Linked DNA regions of Homo sapiens: all the other regions are linked to region 2. The links come from fine-mapping of genetic effects on gene expression. A gene starts in region 2. Each other region holds a variant in brackets. All regions are shown on one strand. Distances are from middle to middle.

Region 1 (10,360 bases), 23 kb before region 2:
TCTACAGCCATCGTATGGGCTCTTGACCACCTACTAAAACTCTGTTCTATCTTCCCAGTGAGAGTGTGAACTTAGGAGAGCAAGAAGTGAAACTTGCATTTCTCATGCATTCCTTCAGGACCCACTTCACACTTCATAATGAGTGACACAACCTGTACAGAAACATGTTACAAACTGTGACCTATTAAATAAATATAAGTTCTTATAAGTATAATATGAATTGGATAAAGGCTTTAGTGAATAAAAGAAAAACTAATTTTGGTCAAAAGCTACAAATAACCAAACAGGTAAATGCTCAGAGGTACAAGTAATCATCAAGACCAATTTTGTCTTTTCTTATTTTCCTAAGGAACATTTAGAAGACTTTGAAATGCTGTCCTTTTGGCTTTCCAACACTTGTCATTTTCTCAATTGCCTGAAGCAGTACAGCGGAGAAGAGGTAGGGGGCGCCCACCTGCTTGTTGTTTTGTGCTGACAGCCAGTCTATAACCTCCTCCTGAGCCAGAGCTCAATAGAGCCTCTATCCTCTCCACCAGGAGGCCAACAGCACATTATCTGTTGGACTCTTGGGCATACACCACAGGCAGGAGACTTCTGGAAGCAGCTTAGATTTTGGGCATGGTACTAGGCCTCCTAGGTCTCCATTACTTTTAAATCAATAGGTAGATAAGATGACTTTTAAGTTTCCTTCTGGCTGTAAGACGTTTAGCATTATGACTCTAAAATACAGGCTTTGGTTTAAAATGCCTGTTTCTTCACAGCTGTTCTCTCTACAGGACCCTGACTGTTCCTCCATAATCTATAAATATGTTTCCTTTGCCATTCCGACTCTGCTTCCAGGAGGCTGATGTCATGAAAGAGTTCTCCACCTTCAAGTACTCACAGAGAAAAATTTCATTGAACTAAAATAACAAAGTGGCTTTCAGGGTTTTCAGTGCTCTCCAAAATGGCTGTACCATTGCACAGCCCCACCAGCAGTGTATGATGTTTCCAGTGTCTCATACCTTCACCAACACTTGGTATTGACAGACATTTTTATCCTTTACCAGTGTCAGGGTATAAAATTATATCTTGTTGACTTAAATTGCATTTATTTGGTCACTAGTGAAGTCAAGCATAATTTTATATGTTTATTGGTCATTTGGGTTTCCTTTTGAATTGCCTAGTCACATCCTTCCTTTCTTTTTCTTAGGGTTGGTTTTTTTGTTACTGATTTGTAGGAGGTCTTTATATCATATGGATAGACTGTAGCTTAGCTTCTAATTTTCCTTATGAAGTCCCTTGTCACACAGTTTTTGAATTTTGATATGCTTAAATCTGTCAATCCTATTCTTTTATGATTTGTGTCTTAAGAAATTCTTCCCTGCCCTGAGATCATGAAGATCCTCTTCTAAACTTTTGTAGTTCATATTTAGAGTTCACAATTAATTATGTTTTTACCTATCCAAAATTGGTATGTAAGGTAATGATCTAATATCCTCTTCCATATAGATAACCAGTTGTCCCAATGGAAGGAAGTTAAAATAAAATATAACAGCAATCTGTCTAGTACTATAGAACAAAAGGAGAAGTAAAGAAAATCCAACCTCTGACTAAAAGGAATACCAAAACAGGAGGAGGCACAGACTAGTCCGTTTACAACAAACTGGCATCTGTGAGACATCAGTGGAAGAATGTTTTATTCAGCACTGTTTTATGATCCTTTCTTTGCCCCCTTCAGCCATGTATAGAATATTCTTTTCCCTGTCTGACTGCTTTTTCAGTTACCATATTTTTATTTCTAAAATTTCTCTTGTTCCTTTTCACCTCTGTCTCTTACCACAATGTCCTGTTCTTTTTTTTTTTTCTTTTTCTTTTTTGAGATGGGGGTCTCACTCTGTCACCCAGGCTGGAGTACAGTGGCACGATCTTGGCTCACTGCAACCTTTGCTTCCCAGGTTCAAGCAATTCTCCTGCCTCAGCCTCCTGAGTAGCTGTGGCTACAGGCATGCGCCACCATGCCCGGTTAATTTTTGTATTTTTAATAGAGATGGGGTTTCACCATGTTGGCCAGGCTGGTCTTGAACTCCTGACTTCAAGTGATCCGCCTGCCTCGGCCTCGCAAAGTGCTGGATTACAGGCGTAAGCCACCACGCCCAGCCCTATAATGTTCTATTCTTAATTTTTTCTTTTTCTTTAGTCTCTTTGAACATGTTAAACATATTCCATTAGTTCACTCAGGCTACTATAACAAAATACCGCAGGCTGGGTGGCTTAAACAAGAGATTTGTTTCCTCACAGTTCTGGAGGCTAAACATCTGAGATCAGGGTGCCAGCATGGTCACTTCCTGGTGAGGGCTCTCTTCCTGGCTTGCTGACAGCCACTTTCTCCATCCCTGTGTCCTCACAGGACCTTTCCTGGGTGCATGGGTCAGGAAGAGGGAGAGAGAGGGCAAGCTCTCTCTGGTGTCTCTTCTTATAAGGACATCAATCTTATTATTAGATCACGGCCCTATCCTCATGACCTCATTTAACCTCATTACCTCCCTAAAGGCCCCATCTCCAAATACAGCCACACTAGGGGGTTAGGGCTTCAATGTATGATTTTTAGGAAGACACATAAAATCCATAACACACACTTTAAAATATTTCAACTTTGTACCCTGTAAATTATAAGGTTATGAATCTCATTTATTGTATCCACTTACCTCTTCATAGCAGTTTGTTTCCTTGAATGCTCTGCAGTTTTGTTTCATTTTCCTATGCGCTTCCATGGGCCTTCTACGAGCTTTTCCATTTAGTCTATAGGTTCCAGGGACAATGTTTGTAGGGAAGTGGGTGGGACAATGACAGTGTGATAGACTGTGATCATACAGGAAATCAGTGCAATTTTTTTCTTATAGAAGGTACATGCTACCCCAAGCATCATGAACTCATTTGATATAAATCAGACATTAAGTTTTAAGGTAAAAGAGTTATAGTAGCTGATTATTAATTTCCTACATGTTTGTATTATTCTAATATTTTATGTTTAAAATTACTTTTAGGAATTCATGAAGCATAATAGTCCACAGCAGAATAAGAATTGCTTGAACAATTTTGACCTTTCAGAATACAGACAGATTCTCAGTGATGTGGCTATACGAATATATCATCAATTTATTATCATAATGGAAAAGAATATCCAACCGATAATAGGTAAGAAGAGAATGGATGACCAAAAAATATTTATAGTAACATTAAGACTTTTTAAAACATAAACTTGGTATGTGTAATGTGTGATTATGTGTAACATTGTTTAAAAAGCCAAGGAAATATAATCATGTAGATATCTGCCTTTTAATTCTTTGCTTGCTTATAATGATTCCATAAATAATAGTACGCTGTTGGTAGTTTTCTTTATATAAGGATGATTTATCCTGAAGGAAAAAACTTGGGGAAACTTCTACTACTGCTATTTATGTGGTACTTCTACTTCTTGGCGTAGCCAAGTATTTTTGAAATCCTAAAGCCCCATTCGAATTCTTGTATACTTTCCTTAATTTCCTGAAATTTAAATACTTTAGGCTTTAATGCCCAGGCCATGATTTGTCATGCTAAGCAGCTTTCTTTCCTGTGAAGCTGAAAAACGTGCTGCTTCAAACCTACAAGAGGAGCTGCAGCCCCGCTGGAAACAGCCGTCCATCCCTAACCCTGACACACACCCTGGTGTCCCAAACCCTTGATTCTTTTGCTTTCTCTATCATAAGTACATCCACTGACTCTTGTAGAAAAATGTCCCATCTCCTGAAACAAACCGAAGAGCGTCGGGAACGTTCCGCGTGTGTCTCCTGGCGTGTCAGCACAGCCTCCCTGTCTCTCCGCAGTTCCGGGAATGCTGGAGTATGAGAGCCTGCAGGGCATTTCCGGCCTGAAGCCCACAGGCTTCCGGAAGCGCTCCTCTAGCATAGACGACACGGACGGCTACACCATGACCTCCGTCCTGCAACAGCTGAGCTACTTTTACACCACCATGTGCCAGAACGGCCTGGACCCCGAGCTTGTGAGGCAGGCGGTGAAGCAGCTCTTCTTCTTGATCGGGGCGGTCACGCTGAACAGCCTCTTCCTGCGCAAGGACATGTGCTCCTGCAGAAAAGGGATGCAGATCAGGTAAAACCCAGAAACCTCCGCTCACGCGGAGAGGCCTGCAGAAAGGATGCTCTTGAAGTCCGAGGCCCCACGCGCCTGACCCTCCCTGCTGTGGCGTCAAACCCCTGTTTAGGCCCTACTGCTGTAGGGATATTCGAGTCACCCTAGGAGCCCCGGGATGCTGGCGCCCAGGGCCTACTCCCCTCACGCCACACCCTGCCAACTAGATGGACTGGCCTAGCCGCTTTAACCCAGAACCAGTAGATGTTCATCTTAAATTCTGGCCCTCTAGGGTGGTCATGCACTCAACCAGTAGTGACTACCTTCTCTGAATAGCACTGCCAGGGGGAGAACACAGGAAACAAGGAAAAGTCGATATGATCCCTGCCTTTGAGAAGCTCAGAATAGCTAAATAATAATGAAAGGCAACTATGATTAAATCACAAACAAGTGGTGCAGGAAATGTATCAGAGAGGAGAGACATTGCAGACGGAACAGTTGGGGAAGCCAGAGAGTTGTGCCTTGAGTGATAAAGGAAACGGAGAAGAACGTTCCAAGCAGGAGAAACGGTCAGAGGCATTGCGGGGAGTGAGTGAGGACCTCTGCTCAGGCTGCATGTGGAGTAAGC[G/A]GAGGCTGGTGTGGGGAGCAGCAGGACCAAGGTAAAGAGCTAGGTTGGATCCACACTGGGAGGGTCTGGAATACCAGGCTAAGGCATTTGGAGTTCATCCTGAAGACTTGGGAATCTAGTTTTGAGGTGTGTCTACTATCTCTTAATTGAGACACCATGGACCCTGAGCCACTATTTGAATTAACACTGATCAAGTGATTGGAAAACACATAATATAGGATATTTACGTTTCTTATAGTGTGTGCAGAAATTTGATACCTGTATCTGTTATGAGAACCTGGGGTAGTGATGATGGTAATGACGTAAGGGAAGGTGACAAAGAAAGTATCTATCATTATGCTAAGTGAAATAAGCCAGGCATAGAAAGACAAACATCAGATGTTCTCACTTATTTGTGGGAGCTAGAAATTAAAACAATTGAATTCATAAAGATGGAGAGTAGAAGGATGGTTACCAGAGGCTGGGAAGAGTAGTGGGGGGCTGAGTAGAGGTGGAAATGGTTAATGGGTACAAAAAAAAGAGAGAAAGAATGAATAAGACCTACTATTTGATAGCACAACAGGGTGACTATAGTCAATAATAACTTAATTGTGTATTTTTAAATAACTTAGAGGCCGGGCGGGGTGGCTCATGCCTGTAATCCCAGCATTTTGGGAGGCCGAGGTGGGTGGATCACCTGAGGTCAGGAGTTTGAGACCAGCCTGGCCAACATGGCAAAACCCTGTCTTTACTAAAAATACAAAAATTAGCTGGGCGTTGTGGCACATGCCTGTAATCCCAGCTACTCGGGAGGCCGAGGCAGGAGAATCGCTTGAACCCGAGGCAGAGGTTGCAGTGAGCCAAGATCACACCATTGCACTCCAACCTGGGCGACAGAGCAAGACTCTGCCTCAAAAAAATAAATAATAAAAAAGATAAAATAACTTGGAGTGTAATGGATTGTTTGTAACTCAATAAATGCTTGAGGAAATGGATACCCTATTCTCCTTGATGTGCTTATTTCACATTGCATGCCTGTATCAAAACATTTCATGGGCCAGGCACAGTGGCTCACACCTGTAATCCCAGGACTTTGGGAGGTCGAGGTGGGCGGATCATTTGGGGTCAGGAGTTTGAGACCAGCCTGAGCAACATGGTGAAACCTCTGTCTGTACTAAAAATACAAAAAAATTAGCCAGGCCTGGTGGTGCACACCTGTAATCTCAGCTACTCATGAGGCTGAGACAAGAGAATCACTAGAACTGGGGAGGCAGACGTTGCAGTGAGCCAAGATCGCGCCTCAGCACTCCAGCCTGGGGGACAAAGCAAAACTCCGTCTCAAAAAAAAAACAAAAAAAAATTTCATGTACCCCATAAATATATATACCTACTATGTACCCAGAAAAATTTTTTAAAAATTGAGTATCTTAAGTCAAAAAATACATGTGAGAGGCATCCCTTACACCTTTTTAGCATTAGTGAAACTTTGGAGTTGGAGTCAATCCCCATAGACCATTCCCACAAATTCTCATGACAGCAGGGCATGGTTTTCAGATAGAAAGGGGTATTCAGAAGGACTAGTCTTTGCAGATCTTTATGTCTTCATTGAGAAATGAGTTATGTTTATTTCACAAGCTCCAAGCAGATCCTGTAGTCCTCTGTAGTAGATTTCAGCCCTAAAGTAAAGCCACATCAGAGCCTTTGCTAAACTCAGTTCTCACTCCCTCAGTGGATCCCCCAAGACTGAGTAGAGACATGAATGAAAAGGATCATGAGGGAGACACATGACTCCAGGTCTTAGAACAACTTCTTTGAGGACAGGCGAACACCTGCCCCCCAGGTACCCAGTACTTTTTCCCTTCCACCAGGTGGAAGTGGCCATCCTTTTCTTTTTCTTTTTTGAGATGGGGGTCTCACTCTGTCACCCAGGCTGGAGTACAGTGGCACGATCTTGGCTCACTGCAACCTTCGCCTCCCGGGTTCAAACAATTCTTCTGCCGCAGCCTCCTGAGTAGCTGTGGCTACAGGCATGCGCCACCATGCCCGGCTAATTTTTGTATTTTTAATAGAGACGGGGTTTCACCATGTTGGCCAGGCTGGTCTTGAACTCCTACAGGCATATGCCATTTTTGTAGAAACGGAGTCTCACTATGTTGCTCAGGCTGGAATCTATGCTTCCAAATGGGGACGTTTAGATCATTTTAATGTAATATAATATTTATATTTAGGATTACCATTTTATTAATTTCTGCTTGTTGCTTCTGGTTTTCATTTCTCCATTTTCTTTATCTGCTTCTTTTGGGTTATTTGAAATTTTTTAGTATCCCTTTCTAAATTATCTATTTTTTTTTTTTTTTTTAGTATTATCCCTTTGATCTTTTTTCTCAGTTGTTGCTCTAGGGATTCCAGTACATATACTTAACTTTTCACAGTCTATTTAGAATCAATATCTTACCACATCAAGTGGAATGCAGAAATCTTACCATCATGTAGGCCCCTTTAGCCTCCCTACTTTATGTTGCAGTGGTCTTATATATTAGATCTACATACATCAAAAACTGTACCATACAATATTATAATTTTAGTTTTCAACCATCAAACATATTTTAAAGAACTCAATAAGAGAAGAATAGTCTATTATACTCAACCAGGTATTTACCATTTCTGTTGTTTCTTCATTCCTAATGTTCCAAGTCTCATTTTTTTCCAAGTCTCATTTTGATATAATTTTCCTTCTGCCTGAAGAAAGTATTTTAGTATTCCTTTTAGAGCAGTTTTGTTGGCAATAAATTATTAGTTTTCTTTCAGTTGAAAATGTCTTCACTTTACCTTTATTCCTAAAGGGTATGTTTGTAGGATGTAGAATTCTGGATTGACAGTTGTTTTCTTTCACCACTTTAAAAATGTTTTACTTTTTTCTAGCTACTGTGGTTTCAGATAAGAAATCCATAGTCATTTGAATTATTCCCCATAAATAATGCATAATTTTTCGCTGATTACTTTTAAGATTTTTTTTTCTTTGTCTTTAGTTTTCCATAGTTTGTGATGTGTCTGGGTGTGGATTTCTTTGGTTTAGCCTGTTTGGAATTTCCTGAGCTTCTTGAATCTGGCCATTCACCAAATTTGGTACATTTTCAGCCACTGTTTTTTCAGATATTTTGTCTGCATCATACTCTTTGTCTTCTCTTTCCAGAACTTCAGTGAACCAGCTGTTAAAGACTTTTTGTTATTGTCCCACAGGTCCATAAAATTCTGCTCCTTTTTCTTAGTTCTTTTCTTCTGTGCTGTTCAGATTGGATAATCTCTGTTAATCCTTTCAAGTTCACTGACTCTCCTCTGTCATCTCTATTCTGCTAGTAAGCCCATTCAGTGAGTTCTTTTATTTCTATTATTGTATTTTTCAATTCTAAAATTTCCATTTGGTTTTTCTTTATATTTTCTGTTTCTTTTCTGAGACTTTATATCTTTTGATTCATTACAAGAGAGTTTGGCTTTACTTTTTAGAGCATTTTTATGATAACTTCTTTAAAGTCTTGGTCAGATAATTTGAATATCTGTGTCATCTCAGTGTTGACTTCTATTAGTTGTTTTGTTTAATGTGAGTTGAGATCTTTCTGGTTCTTCATATGCCAATTTTGAATTGTATATTGGATATTTTTAAATACTGTATTATGAGACTCTAGGTCTTCATTTTTTAGTTTATGTTTTTATTATTATTATTATTATTATTTAGTTACCCAAGCTTGAGTGCAGCAGCACAATCTTGGCTCACTGCAACCTCTGCCTGGGTTCAAGCGATTCTCGTGCCTCAGCCTCCCAAGTAGCTGGGATTACAAGCACCCACTACCATATCTGGCTAATTTTTACATTTTTAGTAGAGACGGGGTTTCACCATGTTGGCCAAGCTGGTCTCGAACTCCTGATCTCAAGTGATCCACTCGCCTCAGCCTCCCAAAGTGCTGGGATTACAGGTGTGAGCCACCATCCCTGGCCAAGACTCTAAGTCTTTAAATCATATGGAGAATGTCAATATTTTCATCAGGCGGACAATGCACTTGGGTCAGACTGCAAGTTCTGACCACCCTCTATGCTTTGTGGTTCTCATGCCATTTCCATGTGTAAGGGTTTTGTGGTGCTCTTTGGGTCCGTTTCATATGTGTGAAAAATGGTGGCCAGCTTGGAACTTGGGTAATGGTATGTTTCATAGTTCAGTTCTTAAATTCTGTATATGCTGTTTAGGGTCAGATTCATGCGTGGGCTCAGGGATAAACCCAGGAGTTAATAAAGAACTTAACAAACTGCTTTTCCCAACTTTCCCAGGCTCCTCCCTTTCTGTGGCATTCCTATTACTTTCTGCCCCCTTTTTGGTGCTTCAGCTAGAAAACTGGAGCTTTCCTTAATTTGCTCTGCAGTGTACTTACTGCAGATGTCTCTATCTGGGGCCAAATGGTGAGGGCAAAGAGAGAACCTTGAACCACAGATCCTCCAATTGGAAGGGAAGTTTCCCTTCTCTTCGAGTTTTAGGTTCCTTCTGGCCTCCTTCGCCACCACTGCTGTCGACATGGGATTGGAACTTGAGCATGAGAGAATAGAGAAAAAGGAGAGGGAAAAGGTAGGGCATTGAGCATTAGGAGGCCCCTTTTCAGCTCCTTGAGCTAGAATCAGAGAGCTCCCCTGGAGCTCTTTGTTGGCATTGATGCCCACCTCTGAGTTTCAACCTGTGGCGAGTAGAGGCCAGTGAATAGCAGAGGGGAAAAGTGATGATCTCACTTTTGACTTGGAAGGACTTCAAATTCTGGTCATCTTCCCCAATACACCTGCTACTATTTACTTTTCCAAGTCCTCAAATAGCTGCCGAATGCATTCCATTCAGGCTTTATAGCTGCATTCAGTGGGACAGACAAGATGGAGTGTGGTTACTCCATCTCACTGGGAACTGGAAACCCACCACACATCTTTGAGTGGGAGAATTAATGTGCTCAAAATTCAGATTTTAGAAAGGACTGTGGCAGTATTTGAATAGGGTGAATTAGAAGGGCTGAGATGGGAGCCCCATTAGAAACCTGTAATAAAAACTAAAAGTAGGGCCGGGCGTGGTGGCTCACGCCTGTAAATCCCAGCACTTTGGGAGGCCGAGGTGGGCGGATCACGAGGTCAGGAGATCGAGACCATCCTGGCTAACACAGTGAAACCCTGTCTCTACTAAAAATACAAAAAAATTAGCCAGGTTTGGTGGCAGTAGCTGTAGTCCCAGCTACTCGGCAGGCTGAGGCAGGAGAATGGCGTCAACCAGGGAGGCAGAGCTTGCAGTGAACCGAGATCGTGCCACTGCACTCCAGCCTGGGCAACAGAGCGAGACTCCATCTCAAAACAAAAACAAAAACAAAAAACTAAAAGTAGGCCAGGCGCGGTGGCTCACACCTGTAATCCCAGCACTTTGGGAGGCTGAGGTGGGCAGATCACAAGGTCAGGAGTTCGAGACCAGCCTGGCCAATATGGTGAAACCCCATCTCTACTAAAAATACAAAAATTAGCCAGGCGTGGTGGCAGGCGCCTGTAGTCCCACCTACTCGGGAGGCTGAAGCAGGAGAATCTCTTGAACCCAGGACATGGAGGTTGCAGTGAGCTGAGATCGCACCACTACTC
Region 2 (10,360 bases):
CTTGTCTGAACCGTTGCCATAGGCTCCTCTTATGCTTTCTTTGGCATCCCCAGCCTCACCCTGCCCCTACCCATGTCCCTCCTTCCCAAGGCAGCCACTGTTCCCGCTATTGCTGCCACTCAGGGCAGCATGACCTCGCTGGCACACTCCCTGTATTACCGACCTTGAGCTAAGTGCTTTACGCACTGACTCTTATCATTCTCTTGACAACCCCAGAAGGGTAGATTTTAAGATCTCCACTTGACAGATTAGCAAAACCAAGCTTCAGAGAGGTCAGCTAACTAGCCTCAGTGGTGGGCCGGGACCAGGCAGCCAGAGCCTGTCCCTGTAACCACTAGATGCTTGTGCTGCCTCCCTGCAGCGGCCTGGGCCTGTCTGTTGACTTCCTTGTGAACAGGCAGGGACCCTGGGTCTTTGGCTGTCAAATGTTTAATAAGTGAGTGCTTGCCTTGCACGGAACCCACACCACACTTACTCAGGCCCCTGGCTTTGGTTGGGGTCAGGCTCCATCATTTGCTGACCCTTATCTTTAAAAGTTCACCCTGAGGGGAGGAATGTTTTTAAAAGTTTTAAGTTATAGCATCCATTACAAAAACGTTTTCCATTGTGAAACCCCACAGAATTGATATTGTGCTGCAAGGATCAATCCTGCCTGACGCAGGTCTGCCAGCTGCCAAAAAACTGGTTAAACGTGTTAAGTTCAGAAAACCTATTGTCTGATGCTTTCTCACTGATTAAATGAGTTGTATTGACCCAGCATGTTGTAATAGTTGAAAGGTTATAAATTAACTGCATATACTCTATCCCACATGTAGACGTCTGAATAGCTACCACGGTACAAGCAAGAAGAGATTTTAGAAAGTTAAAACCATTGGCTTTTCTCACACCCCCTCCCTTCTTTTCACTTTTTTTCAGCTTTATCTTGGGTAAAAGATGTGTGATCAGACCTTTCTCGTTAATGTATTTGGCTCATGTGACAAATGTTTCAAACAACGAGCTCTGAGACCAGTTTTCAAGAAGTCTCAACAACTCAGCTACTGTTCAACATGTGCAGAAATTGTAAGTGCCACTTAAAAAAAATTCAGTTATCTGTCTTAAAACAGTCAAGCGAGGGTCCTGTGACAGATGAGATGCCATAGAATCAGCTTATATAACACACACTTTTCAGTATGCCTGGGCTTGGTGAGGCAGTATAGTACAGAGGTTCAGGGTGTGGACTCTGGTGTCTGACTGCCTGGGTCCAAATCCTATTGATGTTCCTAGTTATTGGTGTGCAAGGAGGTTCTCACCTCTCTCCTGAAGCCTGTTTTTCCCATCTGCAAATAGGAATGCTAATAGCACCTACATCATAAGAGTTTTATGATGATCAAATGATTTCATTTGATAACTTATTTTAAATAGTACCCAGCAAGGAAAGTACTCAATGAATGTTTTAGCTTCTATTATTTCTTAGGGCTAATACTTTTTTCTTCTGACTTCTACAAGTCTGCTTGGCAGGCAATCAAGCTAAAAGAGAAGCTGGCAAATAAACAGTCTAGGAGCATCTTTCCAAGGACCGGTCCCAGTGGTGTGTAGGTCCAGCTCTAATGAAGATGGAATCTCACAGGGCCTCAGTAGTGAGCAAAATTCAGCTCAGAAGTACTCCTTGGGCCTAAGCCTTCAACAAAGACTAGGAATGGAATACAAATCCTGGAATTTTTCAAAGTACACAAAATCAAGTCCTCACCAGAGGTGGCTGTGCACAGGCTTCAGATCTTGCAGCAAAAATGCCCACAGCATCACTGAAGCCCTAAGAATTAGTCCTATCTCTGAGAATTTGCAAAGCTGCGCTCAATAGTGCAGCTGAGCAGAGCCCCCACTTGGTGAAAAGTGGTAAAGCACTCCTCCTGAAAAGCCCAGTAGGAAATCCCCACACATTTAAAAAAACAACAACAAAATCCATAATACAACCAAAGAGAGGAAAGATGACTTTTACATTTTATCTAACTGAAAAAGAAAAGGCACTTTTTATCCTCCTGATTCCACTGTAACCCCTGACCATGATTACATTAAAAATTATTCCCTTAAAGCAAATAGCAAGTAAACAGCCCAGGGTGGCATAAAAAGGCTTTGATACAGCATAGCAATTTGGATATGTCTTCAGCCTAGGTGTAGTGGGCTTCTACCTGTAGTATATTTCTACAGTCTACGTTCTAACTTGGCCCTGCAAATTGTAGAACTGAGGACATTTAGTTCTTAAAAATAAACCTGCTTTCTGGGGGCCTTACCCCCCCCCCATTATTTATTAATCTAACTCTTCTGCTTTTTAAACAACTTCCTCTGCAGGTGGAATAAGCCCAAGAATCCCAGATTTTGAGTCCTCTGTGGCACACAGGTTCTCCCTAGCACAGGGGCCATGCCTGGAGATACTTTTCTAGGGAATAGTTGCCAGCTAGCGCTACTATTAGGTTGGGGCAAAAGTAATTGCGGTTTTTGCCATTGCTTTCAATTGAAGCAGTGGCACGATCTCGGCTCACTGCAACCTCTGACTCCAGGGTTCAAGTGATTCTCGTGCCTCAGCCTCCTGAGTAGCTGAGGTTACAGGCACAAACCACTATGCCTGGCTAATTTTTGTATTTTTAGTAGAGAGAGGGTTTCACCATGTTGGCCAGGCTGGTTTTGAACTCCTGACCTCAGGTGATACACTCACCTTGGCCTCCCAAAGTGTTGGGATTACAGGTGTGAACCACTGCGCCCGGCCCACACAATCTTACTTAATTCTCATAACAATTCTCATTGCTTTCAATTGAAAGCAATGGCAAAAACCACAATTACTTTAATACAATCTCTACTCTCTACTTGGGGGTTCCCAAATATTCAGACAGCATCATTCAGCTGAAGAGACATCCAGTGACTGACAGCTGGCCTTTCATCCAACTGTTTGGGATTATGTAGACACAGTCCCCATTGGGCCCTTTTTGTGAATAGGAGTGACCCTTTATCTCAACCACTGTGGAATGTAGCTGACCTCAACTTTTCTGATATCCAGCTTCCTCAGTGGGAGTTAACACCAAAATACAAGAAAGTACTTGGAAAACTGCCTAACCATTAAAAGTCTGATGGCCTCATCTCTAGATAGTTGACTCTCCAGGTTGGAGGCTGTTCGAGGTTTATTTTACACAAAGAACCCCCAGAAGAGGGCACACACCAGTGAGAAGTACCACGTGCCTCAGGTCTTCACAGCCAGGAGGACCTTGAACCACACACACATCCTGCAACGGTCCAAACAGAGCCAGCCTAAGGAGGTGATGAGATGAGGCTGCCTTGCCTGGGCCCCCTGAGATGGCCCTTGTGAGAAGAATCCCCCATGACCCAGTGTCTCATTTAAATTACCTCATGTGAACTGCTCAAGCGTATCAGGCAGCCTCAGTAATAATAACAGATGCATACTGTGTGCCACGCACTGCTCTCTCCGAATGCCATACAGAGTCTGAAGGAGGTGTTGTCCCCCATTCACAGATGAGGAGCCTGAGGCACCACAAGTAAATCCCTCAGGCCACAGAGCAGAGCCAGGATTTGCCCCCAGGCAGTCAGATCTAGATAGAGCCTGTGCTCTTAACCTTTTGCTTTACAAACTCTCAAACAGGTGTAATATTTTTGCTTTTATATATTCTTATCTTATACTTAATAATTGTATTTATATATTTATTCATTTATAAACATGTTTGTTATATGTTTATATTTTTAACATAGTTTATACAGATTTATATATTTTATATATTTTTTATACATCCATTTAATAAACTAGCATTAACTGAGCACCTACCATATGCAAGTACTATGCTAAATATCTAAATACTAAGGAACAGCGACAAGTAAACCTATTATTATACGGATGGGAACGGAAAAGAGAACTAGCAGTGAATAAGCATCTGCTATGTACGGAGAAGTCTGCTAAAGTCTTCACCCACACTATCTTACCTTTTTTTGTTTTGTTTTTGTTTTTGTTTTTGTTTTTTTTGAGTCTTGCTCTGTTGCCCAGGCTGGAGTGCAGTGGCACGATCTCGGCTCACTGCAACCTCTGATTCCAGGGTTCAAGCGATTCTCGTGCCTCAGCCTCCTGAGTAGCTGAGGTTACAGGCACGTACCACCACGCCCGACTAATTTTTGTATTTTTAGTAGAGAGAGGGTTTCATCATGTTGGCCAGGCTGGTTTCGAACTCCTGACCTCAGGTGATACACCCACCTTGGCCTCCCGAAGTGTTGGGATTACAGGTGTGAACCACCGCACCCGGCCCACACCATCTTACTTAATTCTCATAACAATCCTATGAAGCAGATCCTATGAAGAAGCTTTTCCAGATAAGGAAACGGAGGATCCCAGACTCTAACCTGCAAAACAACTATGTACAGATTAACATCGAGTACCTTCAACTTTTCTCAGATAGAGAAGGCCCGGGACAGCAAGTGGAGGCTGGCTTCTCTGGGAGGGAGCAGGTACAGAGAGGTGGGGACAGCACCCAAGATTCTGCTTGGCGATGTTCTCGCAGCATCTGTAACTTTGATCTGCCTTCTCATTCTCTGCACAAACGCATGCAAGATCACATAGGAGGGAAAAAGGAGAAGGCTTGAGTTGGATCATCCACACCAAAGTCCAGAGCACTAGGGAGCCAGCCTGTCTGGGTCCAAATCCTGTCTCTCCCTCTTTCTTGGAGCATGCCCCCTGAGCAATTACTCAGTCTTTCTGTGCCCCAGTTTCCTCTTCTGTAAAGTGGGAATAAGTGTGCCCATTCAAGTTGACTCCTGTGAGGATTAAACAAGTGCAAATTAAAGCACTTAGAACAGTGCCTCTCACACTTCAGGCGCTTGCGGAGAGGGGATGCTTCAGTCTGACAGAAGTCGCTAAACGTGCATCCTGGCAGAACTGTGCCAGCCCTTCATTCTAAAGGGCAGGAGGTGGCCTCAGAAGTGAGAGGTCCGAGATGCCTGGGCGTGGGCTCAGAAGCCCCAGGTCTGAGCCTGCGCGCCCACTTGACCCACCGCCATCTCCTTTTGCCGCCCCCAGGCCAGGGACCTGATTCCTGCGTGAAGAAAAGAGAAAATAAGGGTGGGCCTCCTAATGCCGCAGAGACTCCGTCTGAGAACCCAGCAACTAGTTTTATTTTTGTATATTTAGATCAACAAACGAAGAGGGTTTCCGGTTCCTTGTTGGGGGAGCACCGTAGCTACCTGCGGCCAAGCCTCGTAGCCGTCTCCTCTCCCGTCCTCTCTCTGCCTGCAGGAGCCACGGGCCCGCAGCCCGCAATCAAGTCCCACAGAGCGGAGATCTGCACGAGAGGCTTGGGGATGGGAGGGCCATGTCGCGGGGGCCTCACCGGTCTCCCCAGAAGCGGGGAGTCCCGAGTTGGAATCCCGGCTTGGCCCTTCCCTCTGTGTGCGTCCTCGGGCAAATCACCCAGCATCCCTAAGCCACAGTTTGCCCGCTGGTAAAATGGGCGTCACACTCCCTGCCTCTCCCGGAGGAGAGAGGCTGACGCGGACATCGCACCAGGCACTGCGCCAGAGCGCGCGCCCAGGTGCGGGGTCTTGGGGCTCAGGCGCAGCAGCCGGGCCCGCAGCTGCTGGCGTCATCGCGGAGGGCGGGGCCGCGGGGCGGTGCTCGGGGCCGGGGACGGCTGCTGGAGCGGCGCCCGCCGCGGCTCAGCGCATTCCCGCTCTCCGCTTCCCTCTCCGCTGCGTCCCCGCGCGAAGATGGCAACCGAGGGGCTGCACGAGAACGAGACGCTGGCGTCGCTGAAGAGCGAGGCCGAGAGCCTCAAGGGCAAGCTGGAGGAGGAGCGAGCCAAGCTGCACGATGTGGAGCGTGAGTGCGGGCCGGGAGGCGGGCGGGGCAAGCCGGACCGGCTCGCCACTTCCCGGGCGGGGACGGCGGGGGCGGTGGGGGCGGTCGTGGCTGCGACGGGAGCCAGGCCCGCGCCACCGCCCGGGAGCAGGGCCCTGGGGCCCGGGCGCGCAGGTGAGGCGCGGGTAGCGGTCCCGATCCCCGGGACGCGCGGCGGTGGGGCCCTCGGAGGGTCCGGGCACCTGGCCGACCCCCGCCGCCAGCTAGCGGAGGACCGCGGGACTAGCTATCCTCATCACCTGCCTGGAAGCTGCGAACGGATCGCGTTCTTGCCCCTCCCATGCGGAGGGCAGGGGGTGGGGTGTCGGTGGTGACGAGCGAGCGCGGCGAGCCCGTGTAGGCGCGGCCTAGGAGAGACTCCTGTTTTGTTTTTTAATGCCCGTCTGGCTTTCTCCATCACTGTTGTATCTTTTCTCAGTTTTGCTTTTATGAGACTGCAATTTCAAAGCTCATTTTTCCAACCTCTCCCCTATCCTTGGGGCGGGGAGCTGGATGACGGAGAGAGAAGGGAAACGGAGGAGCTCACTAAATTCAACCGTTCAGTTCGTTTAAGGCTGTTTAAAAAGCTTTTGGATCGATGTGGTGGATTGGCATAAAAAAGCCATAGCGATCTTAAACTTGCATTCTTCACCACCACCACCGTAATTCAGAACTGGCTCTGTGATTTTTATGAGTGAGCGATTAAATAGCCAGGTTCAGCGGCTCTTGGCCAAAACAGCGTTCCTTTACTTTGTCAGAGGGCTCCTCCTCAGCAGAGCTTGGGCTGGGGGCCAGGCTTGGGGAAGTGGTTGTATCTGCTCACTTTTGAGCTCTGAGGGTGGCATCTCCCCTTTGCTGAGCACCTCCCACGGTGCCCTCCTGCACACCTTGACGTTGTTCTCCTGCCATTCCTAATCGATGCCACCCTTTACATTCTATGTGGAATGGAAAAATGGGGTTCGTGCTAGGGCCTTTACCTTTTGATCTCTGAAGATCACTTAAGAGAAGTGGATGACCTGGATCTAGCGTGTGCTGTGCTTTCCTAGGGGTCTTCTTTAAATAGGAGGCACTCTAAGCTTAGAAATCCTGTCCAGCAATCACTAACTGTAAACCCCAAATAATGTAGTTATGCAAATTGAGAGTTACTTTTCTTACATAACAAGAGCAAAGGTGGATGATCACCTGCTGTTGTTCAGCTGCACCATGCACCCCCCACCAAGGGACCCAGGCTCCTTCTGCCTTTCTTCTCCACACCTTAGAGCAGTGGCATTTGCCCCATGATTATAATATGATTGCCACAGCTCCAAACATCACTTCTGTATCCAAGGCAGGAAGAAGGGGGAATATGGACACCAATCTCTCTTTGCTCCCTATCAAGAAAGCAAAGCAAAAGTTTTCCCAGAAATCCTTCTCCCAGTTTGAGACCAGCCTGGCCAACATGGTGAAAAGTATTCATAGGTCATCTAATTTCTCCATTTGACAGATGAGGAAACTGAGGCACAAAGAATTAAAGGACTTACCGAAGGTCCCCTGCTAAGTGTTGGGACCCGGATTCCCCCCAGGCAATCAGAGTGCCAGCTCAGGCTCACTTCAGATTATTTTCGCCAAACCCGTTTTGAGCTTCATGCAGAGGGCGTTCTCCAGAAACTCACTTATTCAATAGTGCAGGCTGCATGCCTGGATATTTTCAGGTTTTCTGTGAATTTGTAAGTTGCCTTAAGACAGAGAGCAGAGATGCAGCTTTTCAAAGGGAACCTCAGGGGGCAAATGTAGTCAATCCAAAAGAAGAAACTTTTTTTTGTCCTGCCAAGAGTGTGGTGCCCTCAAAAGCTAGGGCCAGATTTTAGACCCACAGTGGAAGGGTCTATCCCTACCTGCATATGTCAGAATTTGTGAGCTGGAAAGACCAGAAGTCATGTGGTTGTGTCCCTCTTGATTCCCCTGCAGCTTCCAGACCACTTCTCTTCTACCCCGCATAAAGCCTTTGCTTCTTGAAGGTTCTTATCACTGTATTGACCTCTTCCCCTTTGACATGTCTCCTGATCTCCCAGCCAGGTTCTCTCATTTCTCTACTTTTCTTTTCTTTTTTTTTTTTTTTTGACACGGAGTCTCCCTCTGTCACCCAGGCTGGAGTACAATGGCACAGTCTTGGCTTACTGCAACCTCCACCTCCCAGGTTCAAGTGTTTCTCCTGCCTCAGCCTCCCAAGTAGCTGGGACTATAGGCATGTGCCACCACACCCAAGTAATTTTTGTATTTTTAGTAGGCTTCACCATGTTGGCCAGGCTGGTCTCGAACTCCTGACCTCAAGTGATCTGCCCGCCTGAGCCTCCAAAAGTACTGGGATTACAGGTGTGAGCCACCGCACTCAGCCATTCTTTTCTTTATTCATCTTTATTTTTAAGAGACAGGGTCTCGGACCGACAGGGTGGCTCACGCCTGTAATCCCAGCACTTTGGGAGGCCAAGGCGGGTGGATCATGAGGTCAGGAGATTGAGACCATCCTGGCCAACATGGTGAAACCCCGTCTCTACTAAAAATACAAAAATTAGTTGGGCATGGTGGCAGGTGCCTGTAATCTCAGCTACTTGGGAGGCTGAGGCAGGAGAATAGCTTAAACCAGGGAGTTGGAGGTTGCAGTGAGCCGAGATCTTGCCACTGCACTCCAGCCTGGGCGACAGAGCGAGACTCCGTCTCAAAAAAAAAAAAAAAAAAAAAAAAGGAGGAGCTAGGCAGAGGCCCCAGGAGGGGGTGTGTTTGGTGTATCTGATGTATCTGAGGAAGAGTGAGGAGGCAGGTGTGTCTGGAGGGGAGTATGCAGGGCAGAGTCCAGCTGCAGGTTATGCTGGGAGCTCATGCAGGACCCCATGGGTGCAGTGAAGATTTGGGCTCTTACTCCCAGTGAGTTGGGAAACCCTTGGAGGGTTTTGAGAGAGAGGATGGATCTGATTGCTTTACTGGGCTCACTCTGCCTGCCATGTTTTGTGGCAGAACAAGACAGCTTGAGGGAGGGAAATGAAGTGTGAGAGGTAAGTGACCTGGGGTAAGAGTTCTTGACAAATGTCTCTTTCCCTCTTATCAGAGAGCCTACCTTGCGTGCCACTTGCCAGCTCCTAATGGAAGTTACAGCTGAAGGTGGAAGAGCGAGAGATGATTTCTGAGCTTGTCTTGGTCCCATAGTTGACCCTGCAGCCGCTCTTACCTTACCCCAGCCCAGACTCGCCCAGCTCCTTCCTAAGTGTGTTTGTCCCTTGGCACTCAGGTGGGAAAGGGAGGAAAGGATGCTGATGAGTTTTACTTGTGGAAGTATAAGCTAGAGCCCTGCCAGGTGCAAACAACAGTGCTGTCATTTTTCCCTGTATGAAGGAAAGTGGTATCATCCCCATCTGTGCGATGAGCGAGCAGGCTTAGCAAAGTCGAATAATTCCTTCAGGGTCATGCAGCTGGTTAGTGATTGGGCCAGGATTCAGTTTAGGAATGATGCAGCTTTCTTTGCAGGGCTCCCCATTGAGCAAGTGGCTGAGAGCCTGGGGGAAGGTGGGAAGGGTCTGGTGAGGCTGGGGAGGACCATAAACTGAATCTGTTCACTCCCCAGAGCAGGGGCTGGCAGCATGCACTTTCCTGTATCTCTTATGGTGACTGGCAGCCCCTTAGTTAACAGATGTTTTTGTTTGTTTGTTTGTTTTGTTTTGTTTTTTTTTGAGATGGAGTCTGGCTCTGTTGCCCAGGCTGGAGTGCAATGGCATGATCTCAGCTCGCTACAACCTCCACCTCCTGGGTTCAAGCAGTTCTCCTGCCTCAGCCTCCTGAGTAGCTGGGATTACAGGCACATGCCATCACACCTGGCTAATTTTTGTATTTTTAGTAGAGACAGAGTTTCACTGTGTTAACCAGGCTGGTCTCGAACTCCTGACCTTGTGATCCGTCCACCTTGGCCTCCCAAAGTGCTGGGATTACAGGTGTGACCCACTGCGCCTGGCCGTTTTTTGTTTGTTTGTTTGTTTGTTTTTTGAGACGGAGTCTCACTCTGTCGCCCAGGCTAGAGTCCAGTGGCACAATCTCAGCTCACTGTAAGTTCCACCACCCAGGTTCAAGCGATTCTCCTGCCTCAGCCTCCCAAGTAGCTGAGACTACAGGCATGTGCCACCATGCCTGGCTAATTTTTGTATTTTTAGTGGAGACCGGGTTTCACCATGTTGGACGGGCTGTTCTTGAACTCCTGACCTCAGGTGATCTGCCCGCCTCAGCCTCCCAAAGTGCTGGGATTACAGGCGTGAGCTAATGTGCCTGGCCTGACAGATTTGTTTCTGACACACACAGGCCTTGTTTCTTGCCCAGCTGAGATTCCCAGCCCCTGCTTCGTGATGACCTCTGCAGATATTTCCCATTTTGGAATCCAAGGATGGTTTCCTGTGAATTGGGAATGTGTGGCCAGACACATGAGTTTTATAGTACCAAATTAGGGTATGCGGCTGACACCAGAGGGGTATGGTTTATTCC
Region 3 (10,360 bases), 24 kb after region 2:
CCTCTCTGAGCTCCAGGCTCCTCATCTGTAGAAATGGAGATAAAGCCTTTGTCCTCAGGCTGTTGTGTAAAGCACTCAGCCCAGTGCCCGTCACCCAGGAGACACACAATCAATGGTGGATATTGGTAACATACATCAAAAGCCTTAAAAAATATGCTTTCCCTTTGACTCAGTAATTCCACGAATTGAAATTTATCTAAGGAGATAATACAGTACAAGGGTATCATGGTAGCCCTGGGACAAAGTAAGTGTCCACCAGTAGGAGATTCAGAGATTATAGTATGTATATACAGTGGAATGTTATGGAGTCATTAAAAATGATAGGCTGGGTGTGGCAGCTCACACCTGTAATCCCATGCCTGTAGTCCCCCAAATTTTATGTGGCATGTTGTCTGCTTATACACATATATATGTGTGTGCACATATGTGGAGGAAAGGCTGGAAGGGTACACACCAAATGATAAGAATGGTCAGGCTAAGCAGAATTGTAAGTGACCATATATTTTTATTTTATGATTATTTTTAATGAATATGCATTTACTTCTATAATTCTATAAAAGGCAATCAAGACAAAACCATCTCTCCATTCACAACCCCTCTTTTCATTCACCCCTTCTCTGCTATTCTAAACATGATCTCTAGTTTTCATGGCTCCTCCATTTCAAAAGCCCCGTTGCTCTCCGGGTCATGTTGTTTCCAGTCTTCTAGTTCGCAGCTCCTAGTACACCAACTCTAGATTTGCCACTCCTGGCCTGCCAGCTGCCTGTTAGGCACTTTAATTTGCCTTCTCAGTTGAACCTCACAACACTCCCATGGATTGGGTCATTGTCTGCCATTTTCCTAAAAAACAGCGACTAAAGTAGACATTAAGAAGCTAATTTCCTGGCCAGGCGCAGTGGCTCATGCCTGTAATCCCAACACTTTGGGAGGCAGAGGCGGGTGGATCTCCTGAGGTCAGGAGTTCGAGACCGGCCTGGCCAACATGGTGCAACCCCATCTCTACTAAAAATACAAAAATTAGCCAGGTGTGGTGGCATGGGCCTGGAATTCCAGCTACTCAGGAGGCTGAGACAGGAGAATCGCTTGAACCCAGGAGGCAGAGGTTACAGTGAGCCAAGATCACACCATTGCACTCCAGCCTAGGCAACAGAGTGAGACTCCATCTCAAAAAAAAAAAAAAGAAGCTAATTTCCCACCTACCCTTTTCCACCCCAACTCCTATGCATCCTTCAAACCAGGCTTCAGTGACATCACCTCTAATGACCACGCCTGCCAGCGGAGTCAACCCTGTTCCCCTCTGGCTCCCTGACCCTGGGTGACAGCCTCTGTCAGCCACCATCGCACTGCACTGTAGTTGTTACCTGGGTGCTGACCTGTCTGCCCCCTCCAGACTGTGAGCTCAGTAAGAGCAGAGACTGTCTTACTCTTTTCTGTACCCAAGCATCTGGCACAGCTCTTGGCACATAGTAGAGATTCTGGAACCATCATTCAAGCAGCAAACATTCACTGGCCTACACTTCCTCTTGAGTTCCAGCCATGACTTTGATTCTGATTCCTTGGTCTGGACTGGCATCCAGAATATTCAGCATCTCAAGCTTCAGAGGACCCAACTGAGCAGGGAGGCCACAGAGGCAAGCGTCCTCTCCCTGGACATGGGAAGGAGAACATCCAGGGACAGGGAGCAGTTTCTAGGCTGTTCCAGTCTGACCTTGGAGGGACCACAAAGAAGCGTGGTGCGGCAGATGGTGTGTCCGCTGGAGAGGGGGCTGCCAAAGAAGAGGAGTCTCTTCCCTGGTTTCCCTCCTCCAGTGTTGTCTCCATCGACGCTGTCCTCCAACGCTGCAGCCACAGATAGTCATGAGAAGGCAGATCCGACCATGCCACTCTTCTGATGACAGCAGGCTGCTGTCACGGTGGGATAAATGAGCTCTGTCATGGGTGTACAGCGCCATTACTTGCCTGCACCTACCCCTTACTCTGCAATCAGGTTGTTTATTCCACCCCTAAAAAATATTGATGTAAAAATTTTACATCAGTATTATTGTTGGGCCTTTGCTTTTGCCATTTCCTCAGCTTAGCGTACCCACCTAGGACCTCCTCTCATCTGACTCACCTTTTTATCCTTTCGACTGAGCTCAGATACCACCCCAAAAGACCCAGTGCAGTGCCCCACCCTCTGGGACAGAAGCTTCTTGTGTCCACACATCTAGCTTAGCAAGTCCCACGTTGTATGGAAATCATCATTATGGCTCCATCTCTTCCCTTGACTCTGAACTACAGTGAGGTCAGGGACTGACTCTCATATACCTGGATGGTCCCAGAGGCTGGCACAGACTGAACTGGAATGAACTAGGAAAGAGTTTGAGCTGTATCTGAATGGCGTAAGGGTTTGTGCGTGGTAAAGACCAAATCCAAGTTGCTCAGGGAACAGGATAGGGCCAGGAGGGGGAAAAGAAAAAAAAGGAACTTTAAAAAAAAAAAAAGGTTGGTGAGCTCCTTGGATCAGAAAGTAGGTCTGAAACCCTGTGTGTGCCTCCCACTCCCAGTGCTAGTGAGCGTGCCCTGTTAAATTGGTGAGTTGCTTGACAGCTGAAGTAGGGATGATGGATTAGGGATAGGGAGAGGTACAGAAAAAGAAGGCAAAGAGGCATTGTTTTGTTCGCCCACCAAAGACTGCTGCTTAGGATTGCTACCGTTGATTGAAGTTTAATCAATACTAAGCATTTCATTTATTCCTTCAGTAAATATTACTGGGTACTCACTGTACGCCATGCTGGAGAATGTCATAGCCAACCCTTATGAAGTGTTCCCTTTATGCCAGGCTTGAATAGTTGTCCCCGCAACCCCACAGGGGAAGAGAGGTGGCGAGAAAGTACATGATTTGCTCGAGGTTGTGCAGCTGGTGTGCGACAGAGCCAGGCTTTGACCCAAGCCCCCAAATCCAGAGCCTGGATTTTTAACTGCTTTGCTCCAGTTTTGCCTCTGAAGAAGATCAAACAAGACAGCACTCCTGTCTTCCTAGAGCTAGTGGAATTTCTTAACAGGTTACCATTATATTCTAGCAAATTCTTATTATAGAAACCAGCTGGTTATATTCACCATTAAAAAAAAAAATTAAATCCTGGAGGAATGGTCCTCCAGAAGGCAAAGGGGAAACTACATGTGTCCTGAACCAAGTTCACACAAATAATACCCAGCACATATTCAGCTCATTTCCAGGTCTTTTTTTTTTTAACTTCCTAATGTTTAATTTTTAAAATTTGTTTTAATTCAGTGGATGCAAAATTTGGCAGATAGAAACAGGATGGAGTGGGTTGGCAGTGATCTACATGTGGGAAGAAAAAATGTAGTGAGAAAAAATAATTAATAGTTGGGATCTATTCAAATTCACATTATGTAAGGAGGGCCCTATTTTGGTTGGGTGAATCATCTTTTTTATTAAAAGGGAAATTATCAAAAAGCTATGGCTATCCTAATGCTGAATTGGGGGAAGCAGCAATAATATTGATGTAAAATTTCTAAGTAAAATACTAAATACAATATGCTCACAACTCTGGGCCGATAGAGCCTTATATAAAAGGCCTATATGGCTGGGCGCGGTGGCTCACTCCTGTAATCCCAGCACTTTGGGAGGTGGAGGTGGGTTGATCACGAGGTCAGATGATCGAGACCATCCTGGCCAACATGGTGAAACCTGTCTTTACTAAAAATACAAAAATTAGCTGGGCATGGTTGTACATGCCTGTAATCCCAACTACTCTGGAGGCTGAGGCAGGAGAATCACTTGAACCCGGGAGGTAGAGGTTGCAGTGAGCCAAGATGGCACCACTGCACTCCAGCCTGGGTGACAGAGTGAGACTCCGACTCAAAAAAAAAAAAAAGGCCTATAAGAATCAGGCCGGGTGCCGTGGCTCACGCCTGTAATCCCAGCACTTTGGGAGGCCGAGGCTGGCGGATCACAAGGTCAGAAGATTGAGACCATCCTGGTCTAACTTGGTGAAACCCCATCTCTACTAAAAATACAAAAAATTAGCCAGGAGTGGTGGCGGGCGCCTGTAGTCCTAGCTACTTGGGAGGCTGAGGCAGGAGAATGGCGTGAACCCGGGAGGCAGAGCTTGCAGTGAGCCGAGATCCCGCCACTGCACTCCAGCCTGGGCGACCGAGCGAGACTCCGTCTCAAAAAAAAAAAAAAAAGAATTTGGAAAATTCAATCTATTTTTAAACTTCATTCGATGTATTTTGTAAAGAACGTATTTGTAAAAGACGAATATGCTGTTTGTGGCAGTAAATAATGCAATGTTTTAGCAGAAGCAATGGCATAATAATTGAACATTCATGTAGCACTTTAGAGTTTAGCAAGGTTTTTGTTTTGTTTGTTTGTATTTTTAGACAAGATCTAGCTCTGTCACCCAGGCTGGAGTGCAGTGGCGCAATCTCAGCTCACTGCGACCTCTGCCCACTGCGACCTTTGCCCCCGGGCTCAAGCAGTTCTCCCACCTCGGCCTCCCAAGTAACTGGGACCACAGATATGTGCCACCACATCCAGCCAAGTTTTTGTATTTTTGGTAGAGACGGTTTCACCATGTTGCCCAGGCTGATCTCAGACTCCTGAGCTCAAGCAGTCCACCTACCTTGGCCTCCCAAAGTGCTGGGATTACAGGCGTGAGCCACTGTGCCTGGCCTAGTTTAGCAAGTATTTTTACAGTTTGAGTTTTCACAAAGACTTTTAGCCCATGTGCAACTTTGCTCTTTTATCACAAGGAAATGAGGCAACTAAAAGGAACTTTTAGTTCCATGGAGAAACAGCTGATTTTAGAGCAAGGACAGGGAAGGAACAACGGAAGCTTGGAATGAGAAGTGCTCAGACTATGAGGGGGACATGTCAGAAGGTCATGGGAACCTGCTTGACGGGGCTCCCCATCACCTGGGACAATTTGAAGATCAAAGTCAATAGTATTAGTAATGGATTACAACCTCTTGAATAAAGTAAGAACCCATGAGTCTCTACTAATGTAAATGAATGAATAAATAAATAACTGGGAGAGGAGGCAGAACTCCTCCTTAGAAAGCTGACTAATGAATGCAGAGGGAAGGATGGAGTGAGAAAGATCACCACTTGCCAGCCATCATCACAATCACTCATTCAGGCCAGAATCATTAGTGGAATTAAAATAAGGCCGTTGAGGTTTGAGGGGTAACATGTTTACATAGCCTCAGAGTACCTCCCTAACAAGACACTTTTCATTACAAAAGATAAAATGGTAACTCTCCAGTGGAGAGACCTGGCAGGTGTCCCCTTAACCAGATGATCCCCGGTGACCCCACCAGCAGTGGGACTCATGTGCCCAGGTGGGATGCAGTGACATTAACTCAGCACCCCATCTCTGTGTCCCTGCCAAATGTGTTTTACCCAAGCTAATCTCAAGGAAGCATTAAACCACATTACAAGAAGCAGCCACATAACTGGAGGCTAAATATAACTGGAGGCT[A/G]AATATAACTGGAGGCTAAACATGCAACTGAATGCAATCTATGATCGTGGATTTTCTTTTGCTATGAAGGTTATTATTTGGACAATAGGCAGTATCTCAATAAGTCTGTAGATTAGTGTTGTTTCAGCATTAATTTTCTAATTTTGATGATTACACTTTGGTTATTTAAGAGAGTTCATTGTTTTTAGGACATACACACTGAAGCATTTTGGGGAGGGAAGGATGGGAGGAAGGATTTCCCAGGAAGGGACGCTGCTGTCATAGGACTCAGACCACAGAGTTGGCACCTCTCGGCACAGGCTTCCATTTGAAGGGAAATGGGCCACGGCCCCGTCAAGCCTCAGCAGCTCCCTGGGAAGACATGAGGGGCAGCTGCCTTGCCTCTTCCCACCCTGTTCCTCTGTCTGTTTGCGTAGGCTGTTTCCCCCTGAAAATGCCCTCTTCCCTCCTCACCTACCTGGAGAAAGGCCAGCTGGGAGGTTTCAAGGAAGGAGATGTAGATGGACAGTTCAGAGCCCTGGCTTCTCCTTCTCACATAGCTACCAACAAGAGAGGGAAGTGGAGAGTGGCCATGGGATCCCTGCAGACCTTGGCGTCCTCCCCTGCATGATGAAGGGCCTGGACCAGCTGGTCTTTGTGGCTTTCCAGCCACTTCCTACAAACTTGTCCCTCTCAGACTCATCAGTCTCAGCTTCTCTGCAAGCCCCTAGAAAGCCTGCCCTTGGCCTCAGGAAAGAAGCTGTGGTCCCAGCCCTGAGAGATTGACTTTTGGATCTCCTTTCTGGTGTAGGTGGTGCTGTGAGTGGATCATATATTCAGACTTTTAGGACATTGCATTGATTTCTGTGGACACTAGGTTTTTCAGTAAACTCACAGGTGTGCAGTTTGCAGACAGCTTGCTTGGCAGTTTGCTGGTTCATTCTTTCCTGCGCCATGTGTATGAGGAACCTGCCATGTCCAGGCCAGTGCTAGGCACACAGGGTCAGCTAGACACGGCAAGCTCTAGAGCTGCAGGGTGTACCTTATAGTCCTGTTGGAACAGTTTTGTAAAGTCAGTTTTCGTTGTGATGAGAGAGTGGTAGGCAGGAGAACTAGAAGCCCCAGCCTGGTTCACTGTTGATTGTATGAACTTGTCTTAACCAGATAACCTCTCTGAGTCTCAGTTTCCCCATCTGCTAAATGGGCATAGCGGTCTCACTCTCCTGCCCATCCTGCCCTCCTCTTAGAGCTGTGGCCCTTAAAGGGAATAATTTTATGTAGTGCTTTATGAATATGAGGTGGTCTTGTTGTTAATCCCTCAACATGCATAGATAAAACTGCTTTGAAAAATGTAGGGTCTTAAACACAAAGAGAGAATGGCAGTATTGTCTCTACCCTCTACTGATCTTAAAAGAAGGAGTGCTGCTAGGATGCAATGGTAAGGAATCAGAGAATCAAGCTGTGGCTTGTTATGGAGGAAGCCCATGGGGCCGCCTCCCTCTGCGGAACATATGTCTGTGCTGTGTCAGCCCAAAGCCCAGAACCTGGTCCTTAGCAAGGGGACTGACTATGGCCTTGTCATTCCAGTGCACCAGGTGGCGGAGCGGGTGGAGGCCCTGGGGCAGTTTGTCATGAAGACCAGAAGGACCCTCAAAGGCCACGGGAACAAAGTCCTGTGCATGGACTGGTGCAAAGATAAGAGGAGGATCGTGAGCTCGTCACAGGTATGTCACACCTGCTGCATAACAGGTGAGCGGGTTTTGGATTTTATAGCTAAGGGGGAGGAGAGCTGTCCCTTTCCAAAAGCCCTTTTCTGATCTTTGTGACTTTGCTCATTCTCCAAAGGATGTGATTTAGCATAAAGAACTCTCTTACATATTATAGAACTTCATAATTTGGGTAGATTTAAAGTTGGTAATAGTTGAAACAGTAGACTATATGTAACCAATATGATGAACCATTGAAAATAATTTCAAAGTCTTATTTGTAAATGAAACCAGTTTTTAAATAGTTTCTTTTTTTTCCAAATTGAGGGCGTAAGATTCTGTCAATGACTTTCTTTCAATTTAAGGAGCTTAGCAATTCTTATGTCATAAAGAACAATGTTAAGATACAGATCTTGTAAAATACAATTTTAAAAATCATATCATTTACAGTTTATTTTATATATTATTTATTAGTTATCTATTCCTCCAAAAAATTACCCCCAAATTTAGCAGCTTAATTATCTCGCATGGTTTCTGAGAGTCAGGCATCTGGGAGTGGCTCCATTGGGTGGTTCGGGCTCAGGTGGTTTGTGAGGTTGTGTGAAGATGTTGGTCGGGGCTGTGGTTGCCGACAGCTGGACTAAGGTGGAGACTCACTTCCAGGGTGCCCTGTTCACGTGGCTCTTGGCTGGAGGCCTCAGTTCCTCACCATTGGACCTGCTCACAACATGGTAGCTGGCCTCTCCCAGAGCGAGTGATCCACAAGAAGGGGCAGAGGCAGGGCCATGCCATATTTCATGACCTGGCCTCAGAGGTGACAGTCCATTGCTCCTGTTGTATTCTGTTGGTCACACAGAACAACCCTGATACACAGAGGAAAGAGACTATAGAAAAGTGTGACTATCAAGAGGCTGGAATGATTTGGGACTCACTTGGAGTCTGGCTCCCACAGCTTAGTACTTTTGATGTCTATTTTTATGTAACATGTATTGAACATAAAGCTATAAACTGAAGTCACATGACATATTCTACAGGCTGGTTATAGTGGCTCATGCCTATAATCCTAGCACTTTGGGAGGCCAAGGCAGGAGGATCACTTGAATCCAGGAGTTCGAGACCAAATGGTGAGACCTCGTCTTTATAAAAATAGAAATACAGAATCAGCTGGGCATGGTGGTGCGTGCCTGTAGTGCCAGCTACTTGGGACGCTGAGGTGGGAGTATCGTTTGGGTGTAGGAGGTCAAGGCTGCAGTGAGCTGAGATTATGCCATTGCACTCCAGCCTGGGCAACACAGTGAGACCCTGTCTCAAAAAAAAAAAAAGAGAGATATTCAGCCAGGCATGGTGGCTCACGCCTGTAATCCCAGCACTTTGGGAGGCCGAGGCGGATGGATCACCTGAGGTCAGGAGTTCAAGACTAACCTGGCCAACATGGTGAAACCTCGTGTCTACTAAAAAATACAAAAATTAGCTGGGCATGGTGGTGGGAGCCTGTAATCCCAGCTACTCGGAAGGCTGAGGCAGGAGAATCGCTTGAACCTAGGAGGCGGAGGTTGCAGTGAGCTGAGACCATGCCACTGCACTCCAGCCTAGGCAACAGGGCGAGACTGTTTTTTTTTCTCCAAAAAAAAAAAGATATTATATAAATCCTATTTTTATGATCAGCATAGGTTTCTCCCAACCCCTGCCTTGTGCTCAGTTTTTCCAAAAGCAGGTTGGTTTGCTTTTTTTTATAACCCTTGTGAAACTGGATATACTCTAGATAATCCACAAACTGTAACGTCTGTGTCAGTTTTGCGTTTGATAGGACAAATGTTATTACTCTCCTAGATTACCTACAAATCTAGTATGTCACATTGCACTTGCTTTTTTTTTAAGATCAAAATAAATTTATCACTTATGTATTCTACCACATTAAAGAAACAAACAAATAAAAACCTTTTACTCCCACCATCCTGTCACAACCATTATTATTTTTTTCTTTTTCTTTTTTCTTTTCTTGAGATGGGGTCTCACTCTGTTACCCAGGCTGGAGTGCAGCTCACTTCAGCCTTGACTTCCTGGGCTCGAGTGATCCTCCTGCCTCAGCCTCTGAAAGCACTGAGATTATAGATGTGAGCCACCTTGCCCTGCCCATTATTATTATTTTAGAGCACTTCTTTCTAGTCTTTTTCAAGAGCTTATTCTTATAAGGTGCTTATCAGGATATCCATGTCGCTCTCTAGCCTTTTGACTTCTTAAATCCAGACAAGGTAGGCTTTGTGTTGGGTTTTCTGTCACTCACATACTGCTGTTGGGAGGGAGGACCTTCAGCAGGGCTGGGCACACACTGTCCATCCCTCTCTGCTCCAGAGCAGGAAGAGGTGGATGTGGGTGTGGGGAGGAGGCTGGAAAGCAGGAAGCCTCTGGAACAGACTTGGACTCATCAACAGCCTTCCTGCTTAGATGCAGGAGAGTAGTCACCCCAGCCATGTGGGATTAAGGCTTGGGGATAGAGGCACATTCTCTCTGGGTACGTAGGCCCCTGCACATAAATCTGTGCTCACCGAGGAGACCACACTTAGTTTAATGAGACGCCAGAGCACACAGTGGGTGGCACACACAGGGACTCCAGAGCACACATGGGGGACAGGCAGGCAGTGAGGTGGAAGAAGCCCCTAACGTGGTCGCTGATGTGGGCAATGCTAGGAACCAGTCCCCAGCCATCAGGGGCTCCAGGTGTGGAGGACCCCACGATACAGGTGTGTGGCCCCACTCCAGTTTCTGCGCTAAAGGCTTACTGAATCCACCCCACACACTGTGTGTGGCCATTTAGGCAGAATTAGACCAGAAGAACCAATGTGCTTTGGAATCTCAGAAGGCCCCCAAACCACCAAATTTGACCTTGCTTCAGGGTCCATCTGCCATGCATGGCATTAACACAGAAATGTTCCGTCAGCTCATGCAAAGCAAGCAGCTATGTCACTGCAGATCCGATCTTGCTTCTGCCCTTAAGTGATGTTTTCCATCCATATCTCTGCCACCTCATTCACCAAAGTTTGGCCCCAGATGGCTTGAGTGATTAAAAAATTGAGCCTGCCATAGAGGCTGTAGATTTCCGATCCCTGAGGATCTGATCCTCTTCCACTGCCTGCCCAGCAACCTGCATGCCATGGTCTGGGCAGAGGACTGCTTTGCAGGGACCAG

The links. PIP is the estimated chance that this variant, and not a neighbour inherited with it, causes the effect.
Region 1: its variant is fine-mapped to the expression of CERNA1 in blood mononuclear cells (TOPMed, PIP 0.95).
Region 3: its variant is fine-mapped to the expression of CERNA1 in whole blood (INTERVAL, PIP 0.90).

The regions. Positions count from the first base shown.
Region 1 is chr15:52,198,633-52,208,992 of GRCh38, reverse strand. MYO5C (myosin VC) reads left to right here. Exons shown (of 41, transcript NM_018728.4): 36 at 350-439; 37 at 3,027-3,177; 38 at 3,846-4,128. It overlaps CERNA1 (competing endogenous lncRNA 1 for miR-4707-5p and miR-4767), which reads right to left. Exons shown (of 3, transcript NR_102751.1): 3 at 3,114-4,104. Among named protein-coding and RNA genes, the nearest start is that of GNB5, 12 kb to the right of the region's middle. The variant G/A (reference allele first, on the strand shown) is at 4,736.
Region 2 is chr15:52,175,250-52,185,609 of GRCh38, reverse strand. CERNA1 (competing endogenous lncRNA 1 for miR-4707-5p and miR-4767) reads right to left here and starts at 5,584. Exons shown (of 3, transcript NR_102751.1): 1 at 5,209-5,584; 2 at 4,408-4,560. It overlaps GNB5 (G protein subunit beta 5), which reads left to right. Exons shown (of 13, transcript NM_016194.4): 2 at 916-1,059; 3 at 5,731-5,842. The coding sequence starts at 934. RefSeq lists enhancers at 1,036-1,205, 5,054-5,143, 4,967-5,468 and a silencer at 5,514-6,173.
Region 3 is chr15:52,150,772-52,161,131 of GRCh38, reverse strand. It overlaps GNB5 (G protein subunit beta 5), which reads left to right. Exons shown (of 13, transcript NM_016194.4): 4 at 7,056-7,192. Among named protein-coding and RNA genes, the nearest start is that of CERNA1, 24 kb to the left of the region's middle. The variant A/G (reference allele first, on the strand shown) is at 5,490.